Regions from separate parts of the Homo sapiens genome. Here region 2 is linked to region 1. Evidence: fine-mapped expression QTL. Tissue or cell type: spleen. Region 1 holds a variant in brackets; the other region holds the start of a gene. All regions are shown on one strand. Distances are from middle to middle. Region 1 has its middle 19 kb from the start of MMRN1. Region 2 holds the start of MMRN1 (multimerin 1).

Evidence for each region. PIP is the estimated chance that this variant, and not a neighbour inherited with it, causes the effect.
Region 2: it holds the start of MMRN1, and the variant in region 1 is fine-mapped to the expression of MMRN1 in spleen (GTEx, PIP 0.99).

Annotation. Positions count from the first base shown.
Region 1 is chr4:89,867,765-89,883,932 of GRCh38, forward strand. It overlaps a transcript of MMRN1 not described here. Among named protein-coding and RNA genes, the nearest start is that of MMRN1, 19 kb to the right of the region's middle. The variant C/A (reference allele first, on the strand shown) is at 6,889.
Region 2 is chr4:89,886,429-89,902,596 of GRCh38, forward strand. MMRN1 (multimerin 1) reads left to right here and starts at 8,426. Exons shown (of 8, transcript NM_007351.3): 1 at 8,426-9,166. The coding sequence starts at 8,544. RefSeq lists a silencer at 11,877-12,077.

The sequences.
Region 1 (16,168 bases):
TTTGTTTTTGAGAACATCATGACATCCGAAGGTAATTAATGAAACCCTAGAGTTTTGCACAACCAAGAATGGAAAGTGACTACTACTTAAGGCTTTTGTTTTTCAGTCTTGGGAAAATAGAGTTAAACTTACTCTCACTGTTACTAAATTAAAAGAGCAATTGTATATTGCTCATAGTACCCTCAAAATAATTGAATAATCCATTTATCTAAGTTCAGAAGAGAAATAAAAATAGCGAACATATAAACTGAAGTAGGGGGCTCTTCCAAGCTACACATAAAGAGATATCCTAAAGTGGAAAAAATATTAAGTGAGATTAAAATGAGTTAGTTATATTCCATATCTATTTTGTCAAGCAAAATAAGAATTTGAAAGGATTGATGTAGGAAAAATGGAAAAGGATAAATTATTAATACTTTGCTAAGTAAGGAGAACAAAGGTATGTGATAAATTACTCTTGAGTGATAAAGAAGACATTAGAGAGAAAAAGTTTGAATTTTTTTTAAAGAAAAAAGATATAAAGAAGAGAAATGGGATAATGAGAGATCAAGAATATTTTAGGCTAAATTTCTAGAAGGTTGTTCTAAGAAAGAATACTTGATACAACAGACTGGTATTTCACTAGGATTGCTGAGAGTAGGATATAAGAGAACACATAGATAAATAAATGGTTGAAATTGGCAACTTTACCTCCAGCCTTACTTGGCAGTTATGGAGTGAACCAGAATAGGGGAGTCATGGAGATAAAGTTGCTGACTGTAGGCACTCCTGCCAAAGAACTCATGCCCATAGCAAAATTCTACAATAAATGAGTCTGCTTTTCCTATACCAGACTGGGGCATTTATTTTCTGTGAGAACAAAACCATTTTTAAAAATCATTCTTCCTTCTCAGCTCTGTCTCCAAATGTCCTACCCTGACTATAGTTCTTGAGGGAAAGAAAAAAAACCAAATTGATCATTTTATTATTTGACCTGATTTGCATTTTAAGTTCTATGTGACTGTCAGATATTGGGCTTCCCAGAGGCTACTCAGTTCTAGTGTAGTCCAGGTCAGCCTCTTCCCTCACAGAACATCCTTATCTCTACTGATGCTCAGAAGAGAATATCCTAGTTGTAAAGTGGAGAATTCAGTTGCTATTGGTGTAAATCAATTATGAGCATTGATTTCATTTGTTTTGATGTTAATACTTCTAAAATTTGATCAAACAGCTTTTTAACTACCATCAAGTGTTAATTTTGAAAAAGCAGTATTTTATTCAAGATCCTACAAATATTGTTCTTCAAGATTGAATGCCAGTAAAGGCTGTAATTCTATAATTTGATCTACTTGTGTTTCTGAAGCTAAGACAGTTATTATGACTTTCTTTAATTTTAAAAAAGGGAGAAAAATAGAAAAAATTTTTAGTAAATCTAGAATTTGATAGTGCCATCTGTTGTTTAGAAACAAAATTGCATGCCCTTAAAAGCTACAATTTCTTTCTCTACTAATTTTCAAGAAAAGGTTAAGACTAATTTTGTCCATGTTCTCAATTTATTCAAGAGAAAAAGTTACAAAGCTTTGTTCATGCTGTATTTCCACATACAAAGGCGTTTGTCATCTCTTTTATACTGATTAACATGTAGAATCTTGAAATTGTTATAAATATGACGTATTTGCCTAAAAATTAGCAACTATTAAAAATATGCCTAGTTCAGATTATGCTTTAAAATAATAAGTAAAATAATAGATATCAGAGATAAAGATACTTTCAGTTTTGAAAGATAATGCACCTTAATTTACATTCCATTGTTAAGATAAGAGTGGCTTTTAGTTCCAAATAATGAAGATAATTCTAGATTCACTAAAAAAATTTTCCTATTCTTCTTTCTTTTTTAATTAAAAAAAGTCATTCTTAGCCTCAGAAACACAAGTAGATTAAATTCAACTATGAGTAAACATGTGACTATGGCAACACATAAATATATATCTTACACTTGGAGGAATAAAATTAATATTTCAAAATATTTAACTTATGATAATGTGAATTTTATAATTTCTTCTCTTTAAATACACCTAATGTTTCAAATGTTTTATGTAATTAATCTTACAGATACAGGGAAAAGTAAAAGAATACCTTTATTAAGAAGAAGCAAGCCACACCCCCATCGCACGCCCTGGCAAGGGGGACAAGGGAACATTTCCCATTACATTTACAAGGAAAAAAGATAGTTCAAATTACACATGATTGGTTTTTGTGATCAATTTACTACTAAAAATTTTAAGTGTTTACTTCAGTGTTTAAAAAAACAATTCTATAATAGGCTTTGTAATTTCAAAGAAATATGTTGAACTTTATTTTATTTTTTTCATAATAAGCTAATATATTGCATATACACATTATTTATTGCTTCATCTCTGTCACTGTTTCTCCACAGTTTGTCAAACAGATTTGTTGGTATAATAAAATTGTTAACACACTAACAGATAAAAGGAAATTCAGGAAAGTTCTGAACAATTTAAGTTTGCAATGTTACAGAAGGATCCTTAGCCTGGGTTACATTTCAGACCACTTTCTTAATGCTGTTGTTCACAGAAGTAGTTTAACATTTCATAGTAGCTTATTTCAACTTAGTTTGAGGCAGTGTTTTCCAATGTTATTAAATTTACACGTGAAATTGTAAACTCCTTTTTAGAATTAGATTGTCCTCTGTAGTCATTCTAAGGGTAATTTTAAATTGTATGCTTTTGTAAAGTTCTTATACTTTACAATAAGTAGTATAATATTACTCGAAGGTAAGCAGTAATAAGTTAAAGATGGACACTATAAACCCTACAGAAACTAAAATGAGTCTATAAAGAGTTATAGCTAATAAGCCAACAAAGGAGAATCATAAGTAGTATCATAAAATATACTCTATTAATGCAAAAGAAGGTAGGAAAAGAAAAAAAGAGGAGAGGCAAAGAACGGTTAGGACAAATATAAGACAACAAGACAGGAGGCTTAAATTCAACATGTAACAATCACACTAAATGTAAAAGTCTAAACACTGCAATTAAAAAGCACGCAATATCAGGTTAGATAAAACAGTAAAACCCAACTACGTGCTGTCTACGGTAAATCCAATTTAAATATAAAAACATAATTAGGTTACAAGTAAAGAGATGGAATAAGATATTCTATGCGAACATTTATCATAGAAAGGTGGAATGGACATATTAAATATAAGACAATGCAGATTTCATATCAAAGACTATTACCAGTGATACAGAAGATGATTTCATAATGATAAAGTGTTCAATTAATGAAGAGGACATAATAATCTAAAATGTTTATGCACTGTATCAGTTTTGTTTTGTTGCATAACCAATTACCAGAAGCTTAATGTCTTTAGAAGACACCCATTTATCAGCTCACAGTTCTGTGGCTCAGAAGCCTCAACATAACATTTTCGATTCAGTTTCAAAAGGTAAAATCAATGTGGCAGCTAGACTGTATTCTAGTCTGGATTTCAGGAGCCTCTTCCAAGCCCGCATGCTGTGACAGAATTCAATTTCTTGCAGTTATAGAACTGAGGTCTCCATTCCTTCACTGGTTGTTAGCTGAAGGTCACTCAGCTCCTAGAGGTCAACTCTATTTTGCCACATGGCCCCCTCTGTTTTCAAAGCCAGGAACAAGGAATCCTTCTCACATGGAATTCTTCTAATACTTTGAATGTCTTTCACCAGAACCTTTGTCCCTTTTAAGGACTAACCTGATTAGGCCAGGTTCACTGAGGATAATCTCCAAGGATTATACAGGGCATGCACATCAGGGAGCAAGATCTTGGGGACCACCTTAGAATTCTGCCTATTCCAGGTATCTAATAACATGAAAATACAAGAAGCCAATACTAACAGAACTACGAAGAGTAATAGACAAATGTATGATTATAGTTACAGATTTCAACACACCTTAACAATATATGAAATAAGTGGACAGAAATTCAGTAAGGATATAAAAGACTTAAATAACACTATCAATCAACTTGATCTAATTGATATTTTTAGAACACTACACCTGATGTCAGCAGAATAAACAGTATTTTCAAATGTGTATTGGACATCTTACAAGATAGACCATATCCTGCACCAAAAAACAAGGCTCAAAAAATATTTTTAAATTCAACTCATACAATACATGTTCTCTGAACACAATGGAATTAAATTATAAATCTTATTTCATAGGATCATGTTGGTAGCCCACCAAAGTAGCCACAGAGGGAATATTTATACAGTGGAAATTGATCAGAACTGGTAAGTGATACACATCAGGCCTTCCCTCTCTCTGGCTATTTGTCACCTACGACAGGTTGCTAAAATTTTTCGAAGACATCATTGACGTTACTTACTAAGGAACTTTGTCTCAGCATCTAGGGATCATGAGTGGAGCCCCTTCAGTTTATATCTAACAAAACATAGGCCCAGTAACTTACCCCAAACACACTGCCAACTAGTCAAAAAGCAGTTTAGAAAACCAAAACAAGAGAGCTTTTTAAGTGACTAGTTATCTTCATTTAATATTTTTTTATTGTTGCTTCTTCTCTTTCCCTTCTATATCCCTTTTTTATTAAACATCTCTTACTAAGGAACTTTGTCTCTGTTTGATATTTATTGAAAGAGGTGCCTAAATAGATGAAGCAAAATTATAGGTGATGAAAATCTTGTCTCAGCATCTAGGTGTAAGACAACCCAAGCATACATTTAGGTGCACAATTTTGGAAAACAGTAAGACATTAAAAAATAAGGCTATTTCAGTCAGAGTTTAGGTCTATAAAATGCAAGATTACACATTTATACATTTTAAAAACAGAATAAGTATTCTGATTTCAGGTTTTAGAAATCAGGCTGGTCTCGAACTCATGAGCTCAAGTGATCTGCCTGCCTCGGCCTTTAAAGGAATTAATTTCTTAAACATAGAGTTTTGTTATAAAATTATAATTGACTTAAACATTAACACTATACATACTTCAGAACCTCACCGCCACTTCATCCTTTCTATCCATTTTCTAGCGCTTATTTGTCTAAAGTTCACCACCTCACCTGGTATATTCCAACATGGTCTCATCTTTCATCATATTCCCATTAAAACGTTCATCATTTCTTGATTGTCACAGAATCAACTATCTAAACTTTCATCATGAAGTATAAGAAAATAAAAGTTTAATTTTCCAAAAGGCTTATTTTAAAGCAGAACTTGTGAATCTAAATGAAATTTTAGGGTGTGAGAAGTTCTCTGAGATATTTTTGAACGAGGGAATATTTCTGCACTTTTTGGCCTATATGGGCTGTGAGTCACATTTGCAATGTTGCCTTTCTTCCCTCAATACCTTTTTTTCATTCTTTAAACCTTTGCCTAGTAACCACAAGCAGAAATATAGCTACTCTCTCATCTTTCAGAATCTGTCCTATTACTTTATTCAGCAAGTACTAGAAATATTGCTGTTACTAGAGCAGAAGTAAAATTCTGCCTTAACAGAGTTTACATTCTACTGAGGAGGGGGGCAAATAATATACACAATTAAAAGTAAATTGTGGCTGGGCGCAGTGGTTCATGCCTATAATCCCAGCACTTTGGGAGGCCGAGGCGGGCAGATCACTTGAGCTCATGAGTTCCAGACCAGCCTGAAATTAGCCAGGCATGGTGGTACACACCTGTTGTCCCAGCTATTGGGGAGGCTGAGGTGGGAGTATGGCTTAAGCCCGGGAGGCAGTTTGCAGTGAGCCAAGACAGCATCACTGCACTCCAGCCTGGGCGATAGAGCCAGACTTTGTGTCAAAAAAAAAAAAAAAAAGTAAATTGTGTAGTGTATTAGGCAATAATAAGCACTATATGAAAAATAAAGCAAGGAAACATATACAGAACATTAGGGGAGGGTGGTGGGTATTACTGTGTAAATAAAATAATCAGGGAAAAGCTCAATGAGGTAACAAATAAAGAAAGACTTGAAGGGGTGAGGGAGCAAGCCCTCTGGAAGAGCCCTGTGAAACCTGGGCAAGAGTGTTTCTGAGAGAAGAAACGGCCTCTGCAAGGGTCCTTAGGAAAGAGCCTCCAAAGCAGCCAGTGTGGAAGCCAAATGGATGGCATTTTCAAAACGACTGTCATATTTATTTTTTATGCATTTCCAAGCAATCAATTTTTCATAGATTTTGCCTATTTACTCAGTTCTCCATTTTAAAAATTTAGAAAAAAAGAAAATAATAAATTCCCATATACCCAATACCCAAATGAAAGTATCACAATTTTGACAAAATTGTGTTTTTAAATCTTTTTTCCTTTTGCTGAAGTATTTTAAAGAAATTCTATATCACTGGATTTCTGTTCTTCAGCATGCATCTCTAAATGTATAGCCATATTCTTATATATCTACAAAATTATCACATGGGACTAAATCAAATTATTCCTATTTATCTAATACTCAGTCCATAACTAAATTTTTCTGATTTTCTCAAAATGTCTTTTTGCAATTGATTTGTTTGAATCAACACCCAAATTTGATGGCATTTCTTAAAGTGAAATGACAATTTCACTGTATTTGTACTATTGCCTTAAGTGTATGCTATTTTAAAAATATTTTAATATTTCTTGAATATTAAATTAAGGAGATAATCGAGCAGTTAATTATAATTATAAATACTCTAAAATTGACACTATATATGACTTCAAATAAAGGTGCACAACCCAAATAATGCATTTGTATGATTTTTCTCATCATTATTATTAATAATACAACTAATTTGTTATACTATCATCTAAATCACATATCGGCAATTTTTTTTTAATCATAGAGGACTTAGCTCACATAGGTACAGCTTAGATGCACTTAAACATTATATGAAACAGCTAGAGAAAAGAAAATAGCAAAAGCAG[C/A]CCAGGTGATGATGACAGAGCACAGAAAATGAAAATGGTCCCAGCAGGAGTAAGTGGAGACCCAGTATTCTTTCAAATAAGCATTTGTTCAACCTATTACAATTAGTAATGTCAGGTCTTAGTTCCAACATTATTTCAACACGTTTACAAAGCAACATTTGATTCAGGCCACATGTACACTCAGTAATAAAATCTGTCAGGATTTTTACAAAGCCTTAAATGTTTTCTTTATATATTTCCCTAAAGGTTAAATAAGGTTTTCATAAAAATAAAAACTGTTCTCCTTTCTTAGTTCAAAATCAATGATAGCATTTCCTTCTTTTCATATATGTATTGAGTTTGGCTTTCCTTTATTAAACACTCTTCAATAGCAAATCACCTGATGTAAGGAGGGTAGAAAATGATTTGGTGCTGATCACGCCATTCATCAAATCCCAGAAAAATATGATTTTGTGTCATTTTCCAATGCACATTTCCAAACCCAAACTGAACAGAAGAGACTCAACTTTAATTAACCATCCTATCCTTCTATTCCAACAATCATATGCTTACTGATGGTGAATTTATCTGTCTCATTCAAATTTGAGAGAGAGATTTTTGGAAGATGATACTTGAAAATTCTGAGATATTCAAGTCACCATATAGTTTTCATAATAAAGGCAGATACCTGACTGGCGTTGGATTATAAAATTAATTTCCAGCATCTAGAATTGTTTTTTCACCTTTGCAGCATATGTACATATATACATATATATGCAATATTTTACATATAAATGTAAAATACTGATTTTTTTCCACTCTCATGGATATATGTTAATTATAAGGTTTTTAATATCTTTTTTTATGTTTTATATCTTTTTCTTGCCAGTAGTTCAGTATGGCAAAAGTATCCTTGAATTCTTTTTCATAAAGGTGTTCTATGGATTTTTTTCATAAATAAAATCTTTACTTTCAACTCATTTTTGTCTTAAATACAAAAATAAGTCATTATATCCACTCAAACATATATCTCAAATAGATGCTTTAATTCTCTCTCCTAAGCTAGAGCCTTTGCTTGGTAATATACAGAGACAGAGAGAAAATAGACATTACTGATAATGTTTTTATCTAACATTTATTAAATATTTTCTACATGGAAAGTCTTTTGCTAAATTCTGTGTTATTTTATTTACATTTTGTAATAATTCCATGAAGCAGGTATTACTGGCAGATGAGGCAAATGAAGATTGTAAAGTTAGATGAACTTGATTATCGATACTTTGCCAGTACTGCTACAGACAAAGAGACCACACCTCCATCTACCAAAAAAACTCAGTGTCCTAAACCAAAGTTTCATAATGTTCAATTCCAAGTTCAAATGTATTAGTACGTCTGTCTATACACCAGCAGAATTATAGAGTGTCTTAGAGTGTGACACTGGGAGTTGCATGTACAGTAATTCACATCATCTACCACAGCAAATAGCTAGCAATATCTGTCACCAGTGCTATAGGAGACAAAGAAGGAAATCAAAACATATGCACTGGACTCATGGAGGACCTTACATTCCAGTTACATTCCAAATCACTCTAATACAAGGTAGAATGAAGTGCTTATAGCACAATACAAATGAAGAGCTATGGGAGTTCAAGGTTACTTTTCACCACTCACTTAAATATTTATTAAGCACCTACTGTATGTAAAATATCATACCAGGCAGTATGATCAAACAAATGAACATGATAGATATGTTCCTTTGCCACTATGGAATTTAGTGATTCAAGTGGGGAGAATGATTGAAAACAAGTAATAAGTAAAGGAACAACTAATTGTGATATGTGGTAGGAAGGAAATGAGCAGTAAATGAATAATTGTGAAATATATTGTTTTTAAGGAGATATTTACAGAGAAGAGGGAGTTATATAAGCTGAGAATTAACCATGAGAAGGAAACAGCCATGGGGAGAAGGGAAGATAGATTTCTAGGCAGGGAGCAGAAAATGTTCAATTACTAAAAGGCAAGTTTGAGAACTGAAGAATGCCAGTGTGGCTGGGACCTAGTAGGCAAAGGAAATGGTGGGTGTGAAGATGCAATTGTAGTGGTAAGAAGACCACTTCGTGCCTGAGAATCTGAGCAATGTTTTAGACACAACGGGAAGATAAAAGTTTAACAAACACAGGAGCATACATACTCTGATTAACATTTTCCATAAATTACCCCTGGCTGCAGAAGAAAAAGTAATACTGAGAGATGTAAAAGGCTTCAGAAAAAAAGCCGGGTATGGTGACTCACACCTGTAATCCTAGCACTTTGGGAGGCCAAGGAGGGCGGATCACCTGAAGTCAGGAGTTCAAGACCAGCTTGGCCAACATGGTGAAACTCCATCTCTATTAAAAATAAAAAAAATTAGCTAGGGGTGGTGTAGGGCGCCTGTAATCCCAGCTACTCGGGAGGCTGAGGCAAGAGAATTGCTTGAACCCCGGAGGCGGAGGCTGCAGTGAGCCTAGATTGAGCCATTGCACTCCAGCCTGGGTGACAAGAGGGAAACTCCATCTCACACACAAAAAAGGGCTTCAGAATATGTGGCGTTACTTAGTTTTTGAGAACTGCTTTTAGCATTCGTTCAACAATTATTTATAAAACATAGAAATGTGCCACTTTCTAGAAATACAGTGATGGGATAAAAGACAACATTTCTTGCCTTCTGACGCTTACTTTTCCAAGCAGAGATTCTCTCTCTTTCTCTATACGTGCGTGCGTGCACACGCGTGCACACATACACACACACTCATTTGTAAAGATGAATGAATGAAAAGAAACCTCTGAAAACTTCCATAGCTCTTTATATTTTTTGTTCCTTGTTCTTTAAAATGCTTATTTCTTCCTATATTTTATTGGTGTTATTTAGTATGTGTGCACATATATATATATATGTGCATTCACACTACACATACACTAAATTATGTATGTATTCCATATGCTATATGTGTATATTATGTATATATATTTATATATTATATATGCTAAATATATAATTCTACAGATATTATATTACATATAATATACTGTGTATTAAATTATGCATTGCTGTTTTCATATTTTTTGTAATATTTTAGTAAAGATACGAATTTTACTCTAATAATTAGCACATGGTGAGCTCAATTTTGTCATGTCTGATACTGTGCCTCATGGCCACACAGTGCTCTCTGTTGAATTCTCAGACTTGTGTTTTATGTTGCTGTGAAATTACAGCAACATTAATAAAAATATAAAATGTATTAATAAAATACATTAAAATATGAACATAATTTTATATTTTATTTTGCTGGATAATTACTGTTATAAATATCTGCCTTTTTAAATTATGTGAAAATATATCCACCTAAGCATAATTTATTTTAAAAGGTAATGTTTAATCAAACATTAGTGTCAAAGCAAAAATATTTTGACTTATAACTCATTATTAATTTAGTCTACTTGTGATGGGATAATTTATTTATAAAGCAATTAAGAAGTTATGTACCCTGACTCTAAATAGGATAGGATAGGGCCACGTAGAGAAGAGCTGAACTCAATGCTGTTCATGAATTTGGTAAGTCATGTTTGCATGGAATTCTATGATAGAATTTGTATTATTTTATGAGAGAGATTTATGATAGTATGTTATGGTTCTACTCATTTTATAAAAGCAAAACAACTAGTGGAATGCCTGCTTCACTTTAAAAAAGAACACCATGTTCTAGTTTTTCTTTCCTCTGTATAGACTCTGTCTTGTCTCTCAAAAGTATAATATTTTAAAACTCGCTGAAATTTAGATACAGTGGCACTTCGGCCTTTCAAAAGGGTTCAAGCAGAGGGATCTGAATGTGCAAAGTCTGGAGACTTTTTCAGCAGTGAACAGCCTGGAGACTGTTTGTCAACAATGAACAATGTGCTTAGTCGGGAGTCTTAGCTGATCAGTGAAAAATCCATAAGAGAGCAAAATACATGTGGGGAAGAACTCAAACTTATGTCACAGCTTCCACCACTTTGAGCTACAAAAGCAAATAGGAAGTCACTTCAATTCAAGACATTTATCAATCACCTGTCATGTGCAAGATTGGACCTTTGGTATTAAAATGATGAACAAAAGCACAAGTCCCTCCCCACCACCAATTCGGAGAGGAAGGTCTGGTTACTCAACAGAAGAAATAGGACAAATGTTGCAACAGAGAAGGACTCTAAGTACAAGAGATTCAGCTCACTAGAGCTGACTGAAGTTTTCTTATGAAACAAACTCTGGCAACTCATTTTCCATCCACTTAAAGATGCTGTATAAGAAATTATAAAATATTTTAGCTAAGTCTTGGAGATTTTATCAATGACTTGTGGGTGACTATGAAATGCTCTCAGGAATGTAATCCAGGGTTGCAATAATCTTGTTAATCAAAAAGTTAGAGCAGGAGATTACCCCAGCTTCCATGTTTTTTTTGTTTAGTTTCTAAACTGGGTGGAATTAAACATTTAAATCTTAATGTATAAGATTTATCTATTAGGCCTATTTTCAGTACTGGCTGAAGTATTGTTAATCAAGAAGATATAATACCATCAATATTTTTGAGAAAATTATCTTAGCCGTAACATTATTCTGAACACTTTAATCATGGTGGCAGCTAAACCTTCAGGTTGTATAACACTTTTTAGTAAGAGCTCTAGGATCCTAGCTACACTGAAAGGACGTGAGGCAGGCTGGGGGTCAGTGCCCTCAGACATCTTAGTTTCTAGGTCCCTGGACTTCTGTTGCTAGGCATTCACTGAGAGAATAATGGCAGGGCTATTGTAAGGGTGGTTTTCTCCCCGCCCTCTTCAAACTTGTCTTTCTCTGCTTCTGAAAATAAGTGAATATTTGGAGACAGCCTACAGAGAGGCCAAGAGGTTTCTGCTTCTATTGATGTTAGCATTTGGTTATAACCACGGGCAAAGAATATTAAGGTAAGAGCTACCGATAATTTTTTAAATTAACATTTGCTTATTTTTGTAAGATAGAACTTTGTTAATGTTTCTTCAAATAAGATTACAGGTCTATTTCAAGTATTAGTAGTTTAGCTCTTTGTGTAACATACACTGTCTTTAAAAAAAAGCATAATTTTCCTTTATAATGGGCACTTAGAATGCAGTAAGAATGTGTAGAGAAAATGTTCTGGCAGAATTCAACAAGACATGTGAAAATAGCCTGAAGAAAAGCATTTATGTTGAAAACTGTTATCATGTTATTGTTTATGGCATTTTGATTGACAGACTGAATCCACTACTAAATCAACAAACTTTGTACTGTGGAACTGTTAATCTTTTGGACATGGTATGATGCTGGTTTTAATTTTACAGATATTCTGACTGCTCTGGGTATAGAAACCCTGGGGGAGGACAATTGGTGCACTTACAAATATAGCTGCCTGCTTTTCTTTTGAAGTCAAACTCTGGTTTAGCTGTTTACATGTTTTCTAATGTAGCAGAAATTGACTTCTTTGTGTCAACACAATTTCTAAGAATCTAAATTAAAACATGAAATCAGTTAAGTTGGGGGAGAAGGTTGAGTTTAAGCCCTAAAGTAAAAGGATTTGGGTTTAAATGGCAGTTCTGTCCCCTCTCAGCTGCCATATCTTGGGCAGTTACTTGACTGCTTGTTAAAATGGGGATTCTGAGTCACTATGTCACAAGAGTTTTAGAGAAATTAAAAAAGATATTATAGCTTATATGCCACTTAATAGAGTGCTTAGCACAAAATCAGTGCACAAAGAGTTAACCATTACCTACTATAATTACCTAAAGAAGGAAATCAGTATTAATCTGCCCTTCTATTGGCATCAGAAAATTCAGAAAATCTGCAAGTTGTCCAACAAGAATTTACAGAAAAGGTGAGTCACATAGAAGGCTCTGTGGTGCTTAGAGTAAGAATAACTTTGCCTTGAAGATCAAAGAAATTCAAGGATAGATGAGTCCAGTCCCTTCTCATGATGAGAGGAGAGAAAACATAATGGACATTTAAGAATTGATAAATTATAGCTTTGGTTTCTTATATAACATCTCTCCTTTTTACCAATATCTCGCTTTACATTGTATGGAACAGTCCTAGGCAGTGACCCATGTAATCATGGGAAGAAGAATACAGAGGAGATAACTGAGGCTTGGCAAGATCAAGGGATGTGTCTAAGACCACACCAGCAATCCCTGACAGCAGGGATGTTAAAAAACAGTCTCAGGCTTGATCCTCATATTTCTTTCTACACTGCACTGCATGTAATTCTAAAAGAAATGTTAAAGGGTTGAGAGGGAAGAAGTCCATAAAAATGTGAGAAAAACTATGTGCTTTCATAAAGTCGATAAATGTAATAACTATTGGGATTTAGTAGCAGAAGCACTGATAAATTAAGGGTAAGGCATTTGTTGGCTCCTTTAATGCAAATCTGCAGAATTGCTTTGCCTGTATTCACTGGAACTTTTTCAGTGACTAATTTCTTTAATTTAACCAATGATAACACAGTTTGCATACAGTAAGCTAAGCAACAAATTAACTGCCAGTGGAGGCAACTTCTTAATTTTATTGGGGCATATGCTAGCATCTAGTTAAGTTTAAATTCCAATCTGGCACATACTTACTTCAAAACTCAAACTACATTTGTAAATTTTAAGCAAATACATTTGTAACACATTTCTTAAATGTAGGACCTGCTTATTTTGAGGTGTTAAAGGACTCCAACAGAATGTGGCCGTTTTCTAGTCATGACATACAAAATCTCCACAAGTTGAGAATGAATGTTGTATGTACTTGTTTTGTTAAAAATGATTTCTTCTAACTGTAAAAGCAGGTGTTCTCATTTTGTATGAATTCTAATGTGTGTATAAAAGAATTATATGCCTTTTCATTTTCTTGTAAATGAAGGATGATAGAATATTATTGATATTAATTAAAGAATATTATTTAATATTCATTAAAGCCGTTTTGTGTTTGTCAAAGGTGCCCATGGTGAATGGAAGAAGTCTTTTCTAGTCAGTACTGTTACTACAGCTCTGGTATTGATTCATCTAGTATTGATTCATATTTTTGCCCAATTAAGTGCTGTACACCTGCTTCAATTCATTAATATATTGTTGCAAGTTGTGTACTGAATTCGCTTTGGTTGCACTACCTTTAAACTTATAGTTAGCCTTTCAGAGCTAAACAGTAATGAGTCTAGTGTAATAACGTATGCATTAACTATTATTGAAAATATTTCAGATGAATGTAAATTGCTTTCTGGGCTATTTTGTATTTTCACTTTGATCATAACACTTGTTTCCAATATCTATACCTTAAATTTATTACTAATGAAAGTTTGTCAGCAGCGGGGGTCTCTCTAAATTTAAGCTAAATAACCCTCTCAGAAAGATTACGTTAGTATTTTGGTGATGTTGATGTATCACAATCACATTCACTAGAATGACCATACGTCTTTAATTTAATTACTATGATATGGAGTGGGGGATATTGTTGTCTCTTAATTTTACTACCTTAAGTGGGTTTTGTCATGTAAAAAAGAGAATTTGGATTGCTATTCAACTACTTCCTATGAGTTTTTATTGTTGTTGTCTCTATAAATCCATGTTCCTAATATTGAAACATTTCTATCAATATTATTTTGTATAACAGTATATATATAAATATATATAATCTTAAGAACAATACTGAACATTTTTTCTTTCTTTAATAAAATTAGAAAAAATCTTCTCAGTTTTAAATTTATGTGCATTTAGGTGATTTTAAGAGGACATGAATGAAGACAGAGTAAGGTATAGAAAGACTACTGATCTAGTTTTAGAAAACTTAAATTTTAGTTGAACACTTTTAACAGTGAAGTTTTCTTAATGCTCTTTTGCATTTTTTTCCTCCATTTAATGTCCTAGTCATATTACATCTTTGATAAATGTCAGTTCAATTTAAGTTGACTCTCTGTGTTGTAGATAATCGCTGCTGTCCAGAAGAATATATATGTTGTATTCAGTAAGCAAAAGATTGAATACTTGATTTAAGAAAGATGAATACAATGATAGGAAGAGGCAAACATTCTTTATTACATTTTCATTAAATTCTTTTCTTTCACTTTAAAAACTTAATGTGTAATATATACACATTAAAATGCACAGCTGTTAGGTGTTCTGCTTCATGAGTTTTGACAATTGCATTCTACTCAGAATCTACAACCGAAAGCAAGATGTAAAATATTTTCATCATCCCAGAAATACTTTCCATGTCCCTATCCAATCAATCTTTCCTCCTCTCCTCCCCAGAAGAAACTTCCTTCTGATTTCTATCATTGTAAATTAGTATTTCTTGCTCTTGAACTTCATATAAATATAACTATAACATAAGCATTATTCTTCATCTCAAATCTCTCAGTAATCATATTGATTTTTGACATTCATAGATGTAATTGCATGTATCAGTGTTCATTGCTTTTCATTGCAGAATATTATTTCATTGTATGAGTGTAATATTCCATTCCTTGTTTATATCTTCTTCTCTTGATATTCTCTTATATTTGGGCTGTTACGAATATTCTTGAACAAGTCTTTTTGTAGACACATTTTTTATTTTCCTTGTGTAAGTATCTCAGGCAAAATTCTTGAATCATGGATGACATGAATTTTCAACTTTATAATTGCTGCACAATTCTCCAAAGTGGTGGTACCATTTTATTCTACCTGAAACGTATGAGTTCTGATTGCTTCACTCCACTCCCATCCAACATTTGGTGCTATGAGGCTTTTTAAATTTTAGGTCTCTTAATGGGTGTGAAATGGTATCTCAGTGTAGTTTTAGTTGCTTTGTTTTGCTCCGATCACTAAAGATGCTGAGACATCTTTTCACATGTCTGTTAGCCAGTTGTGTATCTTCCTTTGTGATGTGTCTGTTCAGGGCTTTTGACAATTTATTAATTGGATTGCTTGTCTTTTCATTATTAATTTATAAGAATTCATTTTATATTTTGAATGGAGTAATTTGTTCAAATATCTAAATTTCTATTATTTTCCTCCAAGATGTGGCTTGCCAATTTGTTTTCAACTATGTCCTTTGATAAACTAAAGTTTTAAATTTGGAGGAGATGCAGTGTTTCAACTATTTTTAAAAGGTTCATGTTTTCCGTATCTATCAAATAAATCTTTCTCTATACCAAGACCATGAAGACATTTCCTTATACTTGCATCTACAAGGTGTATGGTTTTAATGTTTATATTTAAATCTATGAAACATCTCAAATTAATTTTTGGATTTGGAGTGGGTTCA
Region 2 (16,168 bases), 19 kb after region 1:
TTTGAAACTTACTGAGAAATAGTTCATGACCCAAAACATATTCTGTATCAATGAGGGTTCCATGTACATTTAAAAAGTATGTGTTCTGTAGTTGTTGGATGTTCTATGAATATCAATTAGGTCCAATTGGTTAATAATTTTGTTCGAATCTTCTATATCATTGCTGATTATGTGAATATCTGTCTACTAAAGGAAGGATGTTAATATCTCTGACTATGATATTAGATTTATCCATTTCTCCCTTTAATTCTGTCCATCTTGGCTTCATGATTTTTATTTTTTTATTTTTTATTTTTATGGCTACATAATGGTTGTACATACTTATGGAGTACATGTGATATTTTGATACAACATACAATGTTTAATTATCAAATCAAGGTAATTAGGATATTGATCACCTGAAATGTTTATCATTTCTTTGTGTTATGAACACTTCATATCCACTTCTCTAGTTATTTTGAAATATACAATGAACTATTGTGAACTATAGTCACCCTATTGTGCTACTGAACCTTATATCTTATTTCTGCCATCTAACTGTATTTTGTATCCAATAACCAACCTTTCTTTATCCCCTGCTCATCACTACCCTTCCCAGCCTGTGATAACCAAAATTCTACTCTCTACCTCCATGAGAGCAAATGTTTTAGCTCCCACAAATTAAAGAAAACATGTGTATGTTTTTGAAGCCTTTGTCAAAAATTATTGATGAAAGCAGTTGAAGGCGACACAAAAATGGGAAGATATCTCATGTTCATGGATTCAAAGGATCAATATTGTTAAAGTGTCCACACTACCCAAAGCGATCTACAGATTTAATGCAATCCCTATCAAAATACCAATGACATTCTTCCAGAAATAGAAAAAAATCCTAAAATTTAAATGAAACCACCAAAAATACAGAATAGCCAAAGCAATTCTAAGCAAAAAGAACAAAGTTGGAGGAATCATATTACCTGTCTTCAAATTATACTACAGAGCTGTAGTAACCAAAATAGGATGGTGCTGGCATGAAAGCAGACCCATAGACTGATGGAACAAAATAGAGAACCCAGAAATAAATCCACACATTTACAGTGATTTTGGCTTCACATATTTTGAAACACTACTAGGTACATTTATATTCAGTATTATGTGTTCTTAACTGAGTCTCCTTTCATCCTTCCTTGCCCTTTTTATATGAAGTGAGTATTTTCTAAATATTCCATTGTAATCCTACATTGATTTTTAAACTACATTTTTGTTCTAACAATTAAAATATGCATTTTAATTTATTCTAGTATATTTTCAAATAACATTTTACTTCTCACATATAACATCAGAATCTACTTATAACTGTGTAATTCCATTTACACACCTGCAGGCTCTTTGTGTTCCTCTGTCTTGAATTTTAACTACAAATGCTATCAATCTCACCATACATTATTGCTGTGATTTTTATCTCAACAGTCAAATTAAAAAAAAATTTAATTCATTATAATTTCACACTACATATGAAATTATAATGCTCTCTCTCTTCTTCTTTATTTCCTCCAATTATAGGTATGTTGAACCATATGAAATTGTTCTACAGATCTCAGACACTATTCATTTTGTTCACATATTCATCTTTTTTGACTCTATAATAAAGATAATATCAATTATCTACATTTTTTAATTGATAAGATAATATCAAATTTGTTTACATATATATTTAACTTTTCTGATGCTCTCCATTCATTCTTGTCAATCTAGCTCCATTTTTCTGTAGTTTCTCTTTAGCGCAATGGGTTTCTCTAGTATATCTTATAGGGTGGGTCTTCTGAAATCAAATTCTTTCACGTTTTACCTATTAAAGATGTCTTTATTTCCCCTTTACTTTTGAAGGATATTTTTACAAGATATAGAATTATAAGTTGGCAAGTTATTTTTTTCCTTTGAGCACTTTAAAGATGTAATTCTATTGCTCTCTCTCATCTATCTGACTTAATGAAAAGTTAGCTATAATTGTGTTCCCCTTTATGTGATATGGCGTGTTTTTTTTTTTCCTGATAACTCATCAATTGTGTCTCATCAATTTTGGAAAATTCTTACCTATAAATCTTTAAAAAATTATCTTTTGTCCTATTTAGTCTCTCTTTTCTTCTTTATTCCCTCCATTTATAGGTGTGCTAAACCATATGAAATTGTTCCACAGATCTCGACACTGTGTATTTCGTTCACATATTCATCTTTTTTGTGTTTCAGTTTTGATAATCTCTTCTGACCTATTTTCAAGCTAACTGCTTATTTTCTTTGATATTTCCAGTATGCTATCAAGCTTATCAAATGACTTCTTCATTTTTGATATGTCTTATTCCTGGCATTTTCATTCAACTTTTTAAAAAATAATTTTTATCTCTGCTGAAATTCCCGTTCTGTTCAGACATGTTGCCCATCTTCAATACCACATTCTATCATAGTTATTTGAAATTCTCTCTCTTATACTTCCAATATCTTGGTGTTTTCTTGATTTTTTTAGGGTTTCTCTCTTGACCATGAATTACATTTTCTTATTTTTTATTTGTCTTACAATTTTTATTGTATGAGGCATTATGCTTAAAAGAATAATAAAGGCTATAGTAAATAATATTTACCTCAGAGAAGGACATTCTTATTCTGTTAGCCGTTTAGTGTAGGAGCTGAGTTATCCCAATTTGTAATTGAGCTAGGTCTAATATAAACCAAAATTGTTGTAGCATTAAGTTTTAACTCACCACGCTCTTAAAATACTTTGAGGACGTGATAAGGATTTTCCTTTCAACTAATTTTGAGATCTGAGCACAGGCAAAGCTCTGGAGAGCTCTTTATCCTTGACAATACAGAGAAAAAGCTCTCTGAACTGTGTGTGATACGAGGCCTAAAATTAAGACACAGAATTATGTGCCGTCTTGACATCTGAAACCAGAGGGCGTCGAGGGCCTTAACCCAAAAGTTTCCTTCCCCACTCTGCTCTTGTGGATAAGGTCCCCAGCCCAGTATCCACTGCCTTATCAAAGGGACCAGGCATAGTTCCTGCTTATCCCTGAGTAGTAGGTTTCAGTTCCCTGCCAGCCCACAGAATTATTCGAACAAGCCAGTCACATCCGCCTGTGGGAGCCAGGGGACACCTCATACTCTTGATATTACAAAGTCCGCCTTCTAGCATTGTTGATTGTTCACTGTATTCCCGAGTGCAGCCCTGGTGTGGCCCTGCGTGATGTGCTGTGCCCTCTTCCCCAGGGCTTTAGTTTATGTATAAACTGCTTCCAATCTCATCAATTCAACACTAGACATCATGTGTTCACCCATTCTTATAACCTTAGGGTGGGAATTCCTCCCTCACCAATGGGGTGAAGAGAGGATGATTAAAACACTACTTTACAATGAAAAATCTTCTTCTACTTGCAACGAAAAATCATTTTTAAAACAATCTCTAGTACATTCTCATTTCTTTCCAGACCCACCCCTGCATTTCTATACCTTGGAAGACATCTTTCCAACCTCTTGCCTTATCTCTAGCCTTTGGAGGACCTTTCCTCCAAAGTCACTCAGTGAAGACCTGCCATGCCTTGAAGCTACTGATTTTCATTCTTTTCTTTTCACTCAGCTTTTGGAGAGCCATGGCAGTGTACTCAGGCGAGGCTTCTTGATGAAGAAATTTCTGGCTCCTCTGTTGGCCTTCTCTGAGACTACCCCAACAGAAGAATGAGGGTTGGGACACCTTGTTATAACCTCATGAGGTGGAAGTTTAATTCTCCCTTCAGGCTTTGCTGGCAAGGGTGGGTTCTTTTGTCTTTTATTTTGCTTTTTTTTTTTTTTTTCCCCTGTGCTCTATGGTGGGAGTAGAGTGGTTATTTTCTAAAAACTTTCTCTTCTTTCCAGGCTGACAATTCTCTAGTCCTTGGCCTAAAGAGAGCTTTTATTGGGGCTTTTATTGTTTCTGCCCATTGGCGTTCCTAGTTTGCCAAATTCTCCAGTACCCAGAAATGAGGCAAAAGTAAACTTGGGAACTCAGTGCTTCATTGTTCCTTGGGTCACCTAGCCATTCTGCCTTCTTTTCTCCACTCTTCAGAGTCTTATTCTATTTTTTCTATATATAATGTCCATATTTTCAGATGTACTTAGCAGAAGGAATAGGGAGATATGTCTATTCCATATTTCCAGAAGTGGAAGTCACTAATGATAATCACTTGATAACCAGATACAGCTTTCCATTAAGAAAATGAAAATATGGTTATTTCTAAAATGATCAAAAGAAATGCGTTTTGAACTCTTTCACTTCAAGGGTACTGTTCTGCGTAAATGGGAAATATAAAATCAGCAATGACATGGTTTTGTGAACTATTCTTACATTCATTTTCTCATGAGGGGCATTTGGTCATCTTTATCAGTATGTTCCTTATGATCTTATAAAGTTAAAATTTTAATATTAGGACAAATATGTTGTTTTTTTTTCCTGATAAACTAATATGTTTCTCTCACTTAATATTAAGAATTATATAATTCATTAATTGTCCATCTTCCCTTTCCTGCCAGCCCACTCAAACCTAAATTTTCTTACTTCCAATTTATTTGCTTATCTTAAATTTTTCTAGCATCACTACTGCTTCATTATCTTTTATTCTACAACTCCCAGTCTTTGGTTTATTATTCTAATGTGGCTGTGACGGCTTCAAAATAAACCTTCTCATATTTATTTTGAGAATAGATAATATAGAAACAATGGGCTTTCTGAATTTTCTTTAGGAGTAACTTACAGGAGGCAATCTGACTGAATGGGTATTTCAGAAGACTTTTGAAGGTGTGTTCCCGGAACAAGTTCATTATATTTATTTAGATTACTTTTTTTTTCTTTTGTGTGGCTATAATAATGTGAAATAGAGCCCTCTTCAACCCATTTGTTATCACTATACATAGGAGTATGGTCATAGCTTCATCTATTCGTTCACTGATTCAACAAATATTTACCGAATACCTATTGAATCAGGATTGGGCATAAATATCTGTTCTAACAATTACTAATGTGTTACCCTAGGAAGTTATTTAACTTCTTTAAGTTTAACTTCCCATGAGTATAACAAGAATAGAATACTTACCTAACATGTTTGTAAGAATTAAATAATATGCCAAATTTAACTTACCTAGCACATCGACTCATCAAAATCATGCAGAAATCAGTTTCTCTTCTTCTCCAGCCCTTTTGCTGTATGTTGATAACCCCCTTTGTCCACATGTAAATTTGACAGGTTTTCAATATTTTTCAAACACCATTAAATTGAAAAAGCTCTAAAATTTGTTTTCTTCTATTATTTTTTGACAGATATGTCTTATGGAGGAAGGTAATAATGAAATCATATTTTGGATGTTTTAAACTATTTTAAGAAAATAGGAATTTCTCATGTGAAAAATGAAGAAAACAGCTGCTGAAAAATCCTATTAATCTGGTGGAAGTTAGCCCATACCCCCAACATTTTACAAAGAATAAGTCTTGCAGCTATAAAAATGCTTTGAATAGTACACAGCACCATCTACAGTGAACTCCTCAATCTAAGATTCTCTTTTAACTCACATTTATATTTTCTTTTAACTTAATAATCTTTTTTTGTTTTTTTTTCTTGTGGTTAGAAAATTAATTCATATGCATTATAAGGTGGAAAAGAACCAAACCCATTATCTCATCACCTACAGACAACCCATGTTGCAGTATATAGTGAATCCTATGTTTATGATACAATGAAAAATGACATAAAAATCTCCTGATAACTCATAATATAATAAATTTCATGATTTTTATCTTATAAAATATTCATGGTGAACAAATGGCAAGATGGTAAAACATAATTTAATATGAACAACCAAGTGGGAAATGGGAGGTATAGCAAAATGACAGGGTCCAGTTATACAAAACTGATGATATAGTTTAATCCAACAATAGTATTTTAGTATCTAGTATCTAGTATAATAGTATCTAGAAGAATGAGTAAACTGAGTACTCTTCAGCCAGTCATCTCAGCAATATTATTTTTCTTAATTGTTATTTAATGAGTATTAATTAGTCTCAGAAAGAAGAATTTGAGACAAGGTCTCTGACAATTTCTGGAGTATTTTATACCTCTAATTAAGGGCTGATCCATATACCCAAAATCACTAAATGAGCTTGAGATTCTCTGGGGAGTTAAAGTGCAAGATGGCTTAGTAGATCAATAGTGAGATACAGAACCTTTAGCCTTTTGATTTCAGGGTCCCTTGTAAGCTAGGATAGGGGTGAGCAAAAGTCATTATTGGTCAATACCTTATAAGTGGTTAAATGAATTGCTTAGCTTTGTTCAGTTTTTATTATCATTGGATAACTATTTGTTATCAGTTATAGATCCAATGGGTGACATTTTACCACTAAAGTTCACTTGCCAGACCAGGTTTGAACAGTCTTTCAAACTGTAGAAGAAAACAAAAAATCAGTGAATGTCATTATTTTGGCAGTTTTGTAAATCTTCAAGACAGTCCATTCATCTATTTTTACTAAAGCTAGGAAAATTGGTGTAAAATTGAATATAAATAGGAACATTTTTCCTAAATTTTATGAAATTACTGCTCTTCCATAAGCCAAAGCTAGTTTCTTCTGTGTTTTCCAGATAAAGACACTGTAAAGCCTTTTTCTTTCTACTGAAAACCATGTTTGTATTGTGACAGTTGTGCAGTTTCATTGCTCTTTTGCTCTTTTTAGTAACTAATCGTTTCCTGGATTGTCTCTGCTGGACCTTTTTGCTCCTTTACTAAGGCAAGGTTTGTGGATTGTTCTGTGGTATATCTGAGAAACGGATGCTTTTTACTCCATATCAGAGTCGATTGGGGTTGCTGATGATTGTCTTAGTTTAAATAAATACTCTCTAGTAGGTCAACAATACACTTACGGAAATAAATGGCAAAGATTGAGGGAAGAAAAAAATATTAATCCCAAGTAGTTAGTAGCTCAAGGAAGAATTAGGCCTTATTTCAAATCCTGGTGCACTGTGTCCAGGAATAAGGACTAGAGAAAATATCTACAATAAAACATAACCAAGCAGGCATTAGATTTCCAATTCTCTAATTTTGAAAGACGGAACTTAATAATCTAATAACAAAAAATAAAATCTAATAATAGTTTAACAATCAATGACTGAATATTTAGCAAGAGCATAATGCCTGGCACAGAAGTTGACAGAAAAATGGGTTACACATGGATTTAGCTTCCAAATAACATAACAGACATTTAGCAAATTGACAGCAAAGAATATTTTTGTTTTCCTTATAATCCTAGCACATAAGAGAGTGCTTTGCACAGAATGAGGGGTTATGTAACTACTGAATTCATGAATACATAAATAAATGAATGAGTGAATGAATGAATGAACTATTATAACTTAGTTTGTATATCTATTTAAACAGACTGATATGAAATTTTATAGATAAGAGGTTAATTGAAATCTGAGGATCAGAGATTTGCTGGAGAAATTAAATGATAAATCTCATGAAACATCTCTACCAGAAAAAAACCCATAGAAAACTCAGATAAATCTGGTTCTCTGCTACCTACAACTGGCATAATTTTGTCCTACAGTAAATGTATAAAAGCATTCTATATGATCCCATTTTAATTTATTTTTATGTGACTCCATTTTTTCTTCATCTATCCCTTACTAGTAAAATATTGGTTACCCCCAACCATCAGACAATCGTGATTGGAAAATAAAGGAAGTAAAATTCTGATTATTTATTCCATTAGTGGGTATCTCTGGTAGAAGTTCCAGGAGCAAAATTTAAAGTGACTTCCTGGTATACCTGTCTAATTCAATTACTTATGCTTTCCTTTTCTGTTATTACTTATAATCATTGAGATTAAGTAATGATACAGCTGAAGTGTATTTATAAAAATAGAAAGATATACATGTATGTAGATAGATGTTTTATAATTCAGAGTATATGTACTATATGAAAGGATAGAGACACTGTAAACAAGCTTTTGATTATGTGTATGCATGTGGATATACACTTGAACAAAATGCAGCTTTCTGGATAGAGCACAGCAGATAAGTATCATAAAAACTTTTCTCAGTGTCTTTATGTAGTAGAACAAAATGTTAAAACTGTATTCAGCCTATATCAACAAAATTTTGCACTCTCTATCGTGAACCTGAAATTTCTCTTTGAAATCAGTGAAACGTGAAACCAGGGTGTGCTCAGGAAAAGAAAGTTACTTCATATTTTTTCATGGGTTTTCCTGATAATAATTGCCTGTGCTTTCCCATTTACCCTTAGCTTTGTCAGAGACCCTTCAGCACTTCCATAGAGCCATCCCACTAGAGGTCACAGATCACAAAAACCCTACAGAAACAGGAAACCGAACTTCCTGAGTACGCTACAAAACACAGAAACCTGTTTCCTCTACACATCTCAAACTGGCAAAACTCAGTCTTAGCAGATTCAGTGTGGAAGCAGCTATCAAAAAGGCCATAAGGATTTTGTCCCCAAATTTCACATGAGCTACCTTGCTTCAAACTACTGAGATGAAGGGGGCAAGATTATTTGTCCTTCTTTCTAGTTTATGGAGTGGGGGCATTGGGCTTAACAACAGTAAGCATTCTTGGACTATACCTGAGGATGGGAACTCTCAGAAGACTATGCCTTCTGCTTCAGTTCCTCCAAATAAAATACAAAGTTTGCAAATACTGCCAACCACTCGGGTCATGTCGGCGGAGATAGCTACAACTCCAGAGGCAAGAACTTCTGAAGACAGTCTTCTTAAATCAACACTGCCTCCCTCAGAAACAAGTGCACCTGCTGAGGGTGTGAGAAATCAAACTCTCACATCCACAGAGAAAGCAGAAGGAGTGGTCAAGTTACAGAATCTTACCCTCCCAACCAACGCTAGCATCAAGTTCAATCCTGGAGCAGAATCAGTGGTCCTTTCCAATTCTACACTGAAATTTCTTCAGAGCTTTGCCAGAAAGTCAAATGAACAAGCAACTTCTCTAAACACAGTTGGAGGCACTGGAGGCATTGGAGGCGTTGGAGGCACTGGAGGCGTGGGAAATCGAGCCCCACGGGAAACATACCTCAGCCGGGGTGACAGCAGTTCCAGCCAAAGAACTGACTACCAAAAATCAAATTTCGAAACAACTAGAGGAAAGTAAGAAATCTTCTTTTCTTTTTGTTCTTTCTCTGTCTATCAGGTCTAGAAGATTGCAAGTGAAATTTACCTCACTCCCAGAAAATTATTTCAAATTCAAGATGAAATTGGATCATATTTATAATTTCACCATTTCAGTTAGATAAAGTTATTGTTAATTTATCTAATAGGGAAAAATGAAGAAATAAAATGCAGCAATTTTGTTTTAACTGAAATAATCATTCACTTTTCTACTCACTTATAGAGGTAGTTTTACTTAGAATAGTCATTGCCAAGCAAACTAGCACCACGGTGGCTGTTAGTTTAATTCAAGGATATGTTGATTGTGTTCCCAACCATATTCACAATATGAAAGACAAAAATAAACAAATAAATAAAATTGGGGCTTGAACAGATGTGAAAATTGGAATAGCAGTATTATAAAAAGTAACAGTTGTCAAAGATCGAAACAAGCACACCAGGGGTGCAATCCTGGCTTCAGTATGGTCTAGTTCCATGATTTTGAGCAACTCAGTTGATGTCTGTGAACCTCAGTTTCTTCATATGGAAACTACAGATTTAATACAAGGAATGTCAATAAAAATAAAACTTTGCAGGGTTCTCGTTCAGATAAAAATGAATGAAAAGTGCTTAGATGCATGCTCCTCACAGAATAGGTGCTCAACAACTCAAATTTTGCTAGTACCATGATTATTTTGAGTTGTGTTGCCATCATGAATATGATGAATCAGAAAACTTATTTTTCAAATTAATTTTAATTTAAAGTTAGAGCAATTTGAGTGGTTGAAATAAAATAAAACAAATTTAAAGGAGTGTTGTTAAAGAGGGTTTTCAAAAGAAGTGATAGTCAAATCAAAATAAACAAAGAAAAAATATCTGGGTGGGTCAATATTTTATTCATTTAATGCTCAGAGTCATCTGTATGTTTGGAATACTAGAAGTTTAGTATTGCAAAACTAAACTTACAAATAGTTTTTACATGTAATAATACAAAGTCAAGACACCAGACATGTCTTGGGAGCAAAATGGGGTTAAATATCTTACTAATAATAAAATAAAATCCAAGTTAAAAATAGAAGTTGACACACCTGCTATGTGAAAGACATTTAGTTAAAGCTGTTGCTGATATAAAGGTGAGAAGAAGAGAGACACTGGTAAGAATTCTAGCCAATGAATTTACTTATTTCTGTATTATTTATTATTCAAGTCTATTTTTCACTATATTTCAAAAGTTATAGAATTTTTCGAAATATATAAGTAAATCTGATTGTAACTAAAAAAGTATTCACTTGGTGGACTTTGGAACAATCCCAGCTTACTGTAAAACAAATAGTACAGATTACAATATGTTCACTTTGGGACAAGTAGATTTGCCATTAAAAAAACATTTAACAGACATGCATTAATCTTTCTCACTTTGGGGGACAACAGGATTTTATCTATTAAATAATCAGAAATGTCATTTATTGACAGCTTTTTCTAAATCACTTGAATGCATCATTTCTGTTAATCATATTTTATTAGAGGCTGTAATTAAATTTTTAAAAACTAATTACAGTAAAACCCTTGGACATTCATGGGAAACGATTGTGAGCTTTTCAGAGATGCTATAGCTAAGAATTTTTTTTTTTTTGAGACGGAGTCTCGCTCTCTTGCCAGGCTGGAGTGCAGTGGCACAATCTCGGCTCACTGCAATCTTCGACTCCCAGGTTCAAGCGATTCTCTTGCCTCAGCCTTCTGAGTAGCTGGGACTACAGGTGGTGTGCCATCACACCCAGCTAATTTTTGTATTTTTAGTAGAGATGGGGTTTCACCATGTTGGCCAGGGTGGTCTTGATCTCTTGACCTCATGATCCACCCACCTCAGCCTCCCAAAGTGCTGGGATTACAGGCGTGAGCCACCGCACCCAGCCAGAATTTTTTAATAGAAAGGGAAATATAATAAACAGAAAAAAGAGACAATTCAAGTTAAAATAGCATTTAAATTTTACATACCATATAGAAAGTGGCATACAGTTGTGTCATAATTAGAACTAGTAACTAATAGTTTGATAAATACTAGTTTTTAAATAAATGCTAGTTGTGTTATCCAAGGTCCTTGCTTTCAAATGTTGGGAACAATTTGATGAATATTTATAATTTGCCCATCATGTGCTAGCACTGTGCTAGGCTTTGGGTTACACAGAATTTAAAAAAATAATAATAATTCCTCTGTCTAAGGAATATTCCCTATAAAAAGTAAACACTAACATACCTATCAGACTTCAAAAAATGTTAATATGTGCTATGAGAAAACAAGATACTAAAGGTATAACTTGCTGAACAGAACTTTATCCTCTGGATTTTCTAACAAAAATAATCTTAAACTCCTTCTATAGAAAAGTACTAACTGCATGTAGGGATTCTCTTATTTGAGGTCCTGGAGAGCCTGAGGTTTTCTTTTAGTAATCCTTTCCATTACCAAGATTCCTTACTCATTAGGCCATGCAAATGACAATGGCATTAGAGAAAAGCCTAGGTCCTTCACTTTTGGACACAGTGCTGCTGCAAACCCTTGATATGGTCAAAAGAAGTCCTTCGTACTTTCATTTGATTGGCAAATAATAATAATAATAGTAGCAAACACTTATATGGCATCTGTTACTAGTACTCTACTATTGTCAGTGAATATATTCACTCATTTAATCATTACTATAACTCCATAAAGAAGAGGAAGATTTTTATCATTATTTCTTTACAGAGGGATTAAGTAGCTTACCTAAGGTCACTTGGCTAACAAAGCTCAGGGCAAAGACTCAAATCCAAGCTGGCTGGCTTTAGAGTTGTAGCTCTCAGCTCCTACATTACACTCCCTTGGCAGGTACAGTCTCTTATCACAAGTGGGAAGATAAGCGTGACCAGTTCACTTCCCAGCTCGTGAGGCTTCACAGGCTATTGGTTGCCTCCAGAATACAATCTAGATTTGTTACCCAGTTAGTCACACGATGCCATCCTAGATCTGCCTCCTGCCTACCTCCCCAACCTCATCTTCCGCCACTTCCGGCTATTCAAATAAGTGGTTCTCTGGTACAATATGTGCTGTTTGTTAAACCCACCTTTCTTCCCTGTCTGCCCCTGTGACTAACAATGGGCCCTCTTTTGCCATCGTTCTCTCTTTTCACACCTAATAATAACTCCAGGAAGCCTTCTCAGGTGAAGTTAGGTGGCCTTTCTAATCGCTCCTACAGGTCTCTTTGAATTCCCCTGTTCACTGCACTTACGACACTACATAATAATCATAATGAATTTGTAGTATCTTTGCATATAGGGACTTATTTTCAGAGCTAGCAAAGTCTCTGGTTTATAGCAGGTACACAATCAATATTTAATCATACTGAATGTGAAATATGAGGATTAATATGTGAATATAAAGAAGAAAGCTTCCCAAATATTTGCATTTGTTTATGAAAAAAACCTGGTTGATTTAGAATAAACTCATATTTGTTCTTTTTTCTACCATTCTTGGAATTTTATAATAATTCTTAGTAAAAGGCGTATTTATGTTTATTACAGGTTCTTTTCTAGATTATTCAGGATTATTCTGGCATATTTTTGTTTCATCTTGTAGTTTTTCTTCTTTTTTTTTTTAGCCTTGCAGGAACTCCTGGCCAAAATAGACCTATGGTTTCCTGTCTGGCAGAGTGGGTGTTAGTCAATGACCAAGCACTTTGAAATAGGAAGGATGGAAATAAGAAATTAGGATTAGTGTATTTATATGTTGAACAAATATTTGCTGAACACCTTATCTGTCCCAAGCACTGTGCTTGTGCTGGGAGTAAAACAATGAACAAGAACTCCTACATGTCCTGCCTTATGGAACCAACAGCCCAGTGGCAGAGGTGAGAGGAGGAATAACAGTGAATCACAAATGCTGATTCTGAATGAAGCTTAAGAAATTGTAGTGTATAATGGGGGGAATGGCCTACCAATTGTGAATGGGGTCAGTAAACCTTGCCTGAGAGGATAATAGGTGAAATGAGGTAATGATACAATCTAACTGCCTACTTAGCTTTTCCCACAATTCCCAACCCCTGTACACATGTATCTTAATTTTTACCAAATCAGTGAATGGCTAGTTCCATAACTAGAAACCTTGGATAGATCTTTGGCATTTTTCTCTCCCTTCTGGTTTTTATCTAATCTATCAAAAAGTCTTGTTACACCTCTAATACATCCCAAATACCTCAACTTCTCTCCATCTTCTACTTGCCGTTATTCACCACTAGTGTTCTAATTGGTCCACTTCTTTCCACTCTTGTCTACCATAATCCATGATCCACAAAAGGGAGGGATCTTTTGAACATTTAAGTCAGATTAATGCATTTCACTGGATTAAGTCTTCATTATTGTAAGTGACACATTATTTTAGGTACTAATCAGAAGGAAAAGTATGACATCATACTTGCTTAATTTGAATTTTTAGATTTGTCTTTCAGACTTTGAGATTTTGGTCACATATCACTTTTGCAAACTTAAGAAGGAAATGTAAATGAAACTGGTAAAGTATTTCGAAGGCAATGGCAACAACTGCTATCTGACCACTAGTGACTGAAAAATGCCTTTGATTTCAAGACACATTCTTGATTTCAGAGATGTATGTCTTAAAATGTGTGAAATTTGGTCTTTCATTCATTGTCACACTCCAAGATCACTGCACTTCATTTCCTCCAGCCACACTGGCTTCCTTTCTGTTTATTGAACATGTCAAGTTAATATCTCAAAGGAAACTTTTTTTGCTCTTGCTGGAATGCTCTTTCTGCACCTTTTATAATGAAGGACTCCTCTTCCACTTGCACCTCCAGCTTTAATGTCACCTCTTCAAAGGGACCTTCTCTTACCACCCAATGTAAAGTTAACTATGCTCTCACTTGCCATTCCTTATTTTGTCACCTTTATTTTTTTCTTTGTAGGAATTATTTGAAATTATTCTACTTATATAGACAATGGTGTATTTTATGTCTTTCCGCAATACATCCCATGAAAACAGGGACCTTGCCTGTCTTATTACTACTCTATTTGCTGCCTAGAACAGTGCCAGGTGCATAGAAAGAGCTCAATAAAACTCTGTAAAATCATGGATTATTAGATGGGTTTGGCATCCAGAGGGGAGATCAAGGCTAGAGATATAAATTTGGCAAAGCATTGGTATATAGAAATGTATTAAGTCATGAATGTGGATGATACTGAAAGAAAGAAGGACCTTGAATTATGAACGGAGAATCTCTAATATTTGATGAACTGATAGTGGTGGATGCCAACAATACAGTCTTAAATGGGGTGACCAGAGAAGTTAGGAAGGAATCTATAAAAGTGTGGTGTCATAGAGCAAAGGAAGAAAATATTTTAAGAAGGAGGTAAGTGATCAACAGTGTGAAATGCTGCTGAAAAAGACAAAATGAGGACTGAAAAATAGCCACTATTTCAGTTTAGTGAGCACCATGCTCTGGCCTGAGAGAATTGAGGTATGAAGGAAGGCAAAAGAGAGCCATTAAAGCCAACTCAATTAAGGAGGGCTTTTATGAAAAAAAAAAAAAAAAAAGGAGAAAGTGGTCAGAAGCCAAGGCTAGTCCAGTTATTTATGTTTTGTGTTTGTTTCTTATAATATTTCATTTTAAATACAGAGGGCTCATACATATGTTAACATGTTAATGAGAAGGGTCAGAGGAAGGTAAAATTTGAATATGCAGAAAAAGAGGGATTTTTTTTCTGAGTTTAATGACAAATTAGAAAATTAGAAATTATTATTTCTGAGTTTAATGACAAATTAGAAAATTATTCTGAGTTTAATGACAAATTAGAAAATTACAAAAATTAACCATTAAATTCTGCTGTCATACTTTTTTTCTGCTCATTTTGTGTGAATTATGAATAGGTTTTAGAAGTGAATTATCTGATCAGCTAAATTCTTGTGTTGTTTTCAAAGTTATTATTAGGCCTAATAACATCCAAAATGGGTTATTCTTACATGCTGTTAAATTCTAAAGAGAAACCATTATACTAAAGGGTATTTTCTTATATCTTTGTGAAATAGATGTCTCTATTACATTACTGCCAGTGAAATAAACACTACATAAAGTATATTCTCTATCAACTTTTACCCATTAATCACATTCTTTATTTCATTACTTTGCTGTTTCTACTCTGTTACTATAAATATATATTGCATTTCATATGCTAGAATTTAATGAGTGCTTATATATTCCTAATAATTAAGTGGGAACTTTTTGTATTCGCACAACTTCTGCTTTTCTGAATATAAAACTATAATTTTAAATTTATTATTTGGGGGTAAATGCTAAGAGAGTCAGTTTACAGGAACTGGATTAAGCATAGAATTCTGCATCACGGCATCCGTTAGCCTGCCTTTGTGGTCTGCACGCTGGGAAAGCCTGACACCTACTGGAATAGAAACAGTTTACAACGCCCGGAATATGCTCAAGTCACAGTTTTGCAAGGAAGGGGGAAACAAAAAATAAAATTAGGTAAAAAAGAGTATGTTCAATTCCCACAGGAAGGGGAATATCACACTCTGGGGACTGTGGTGGGGTAGGGGGAGGGGGGAGGGATAGCATTGGGAGATATATCTAATGCTAGATGACAAGTTAGTGGGTGCAGCGCACCAGCATGGCACATGTATACATATGTAACTAACCTGCACAATGTGCACATGTACCCTAAAACTTAAAGTATAATAAAAAAAATAAATAAATAAGTTATAGAAGAGAAAAAAAACAAATTTATGGAAAAGGTTATATTAAAGGTTGACTTTAAGAATCATTACTTATAAAATATATATGTTATACATATTTAATTCGATGTACCACTTTAAAAATATACTACTTTTCACTTTAAAATTGGAAAATAGGTTGGATCCAAACAGCAAACTCTATGTACATCCTGTGATGGCCATACATTCGGCTCGTTCTCATAAAACTTTACACTGACAATATTGTGTATAGACAG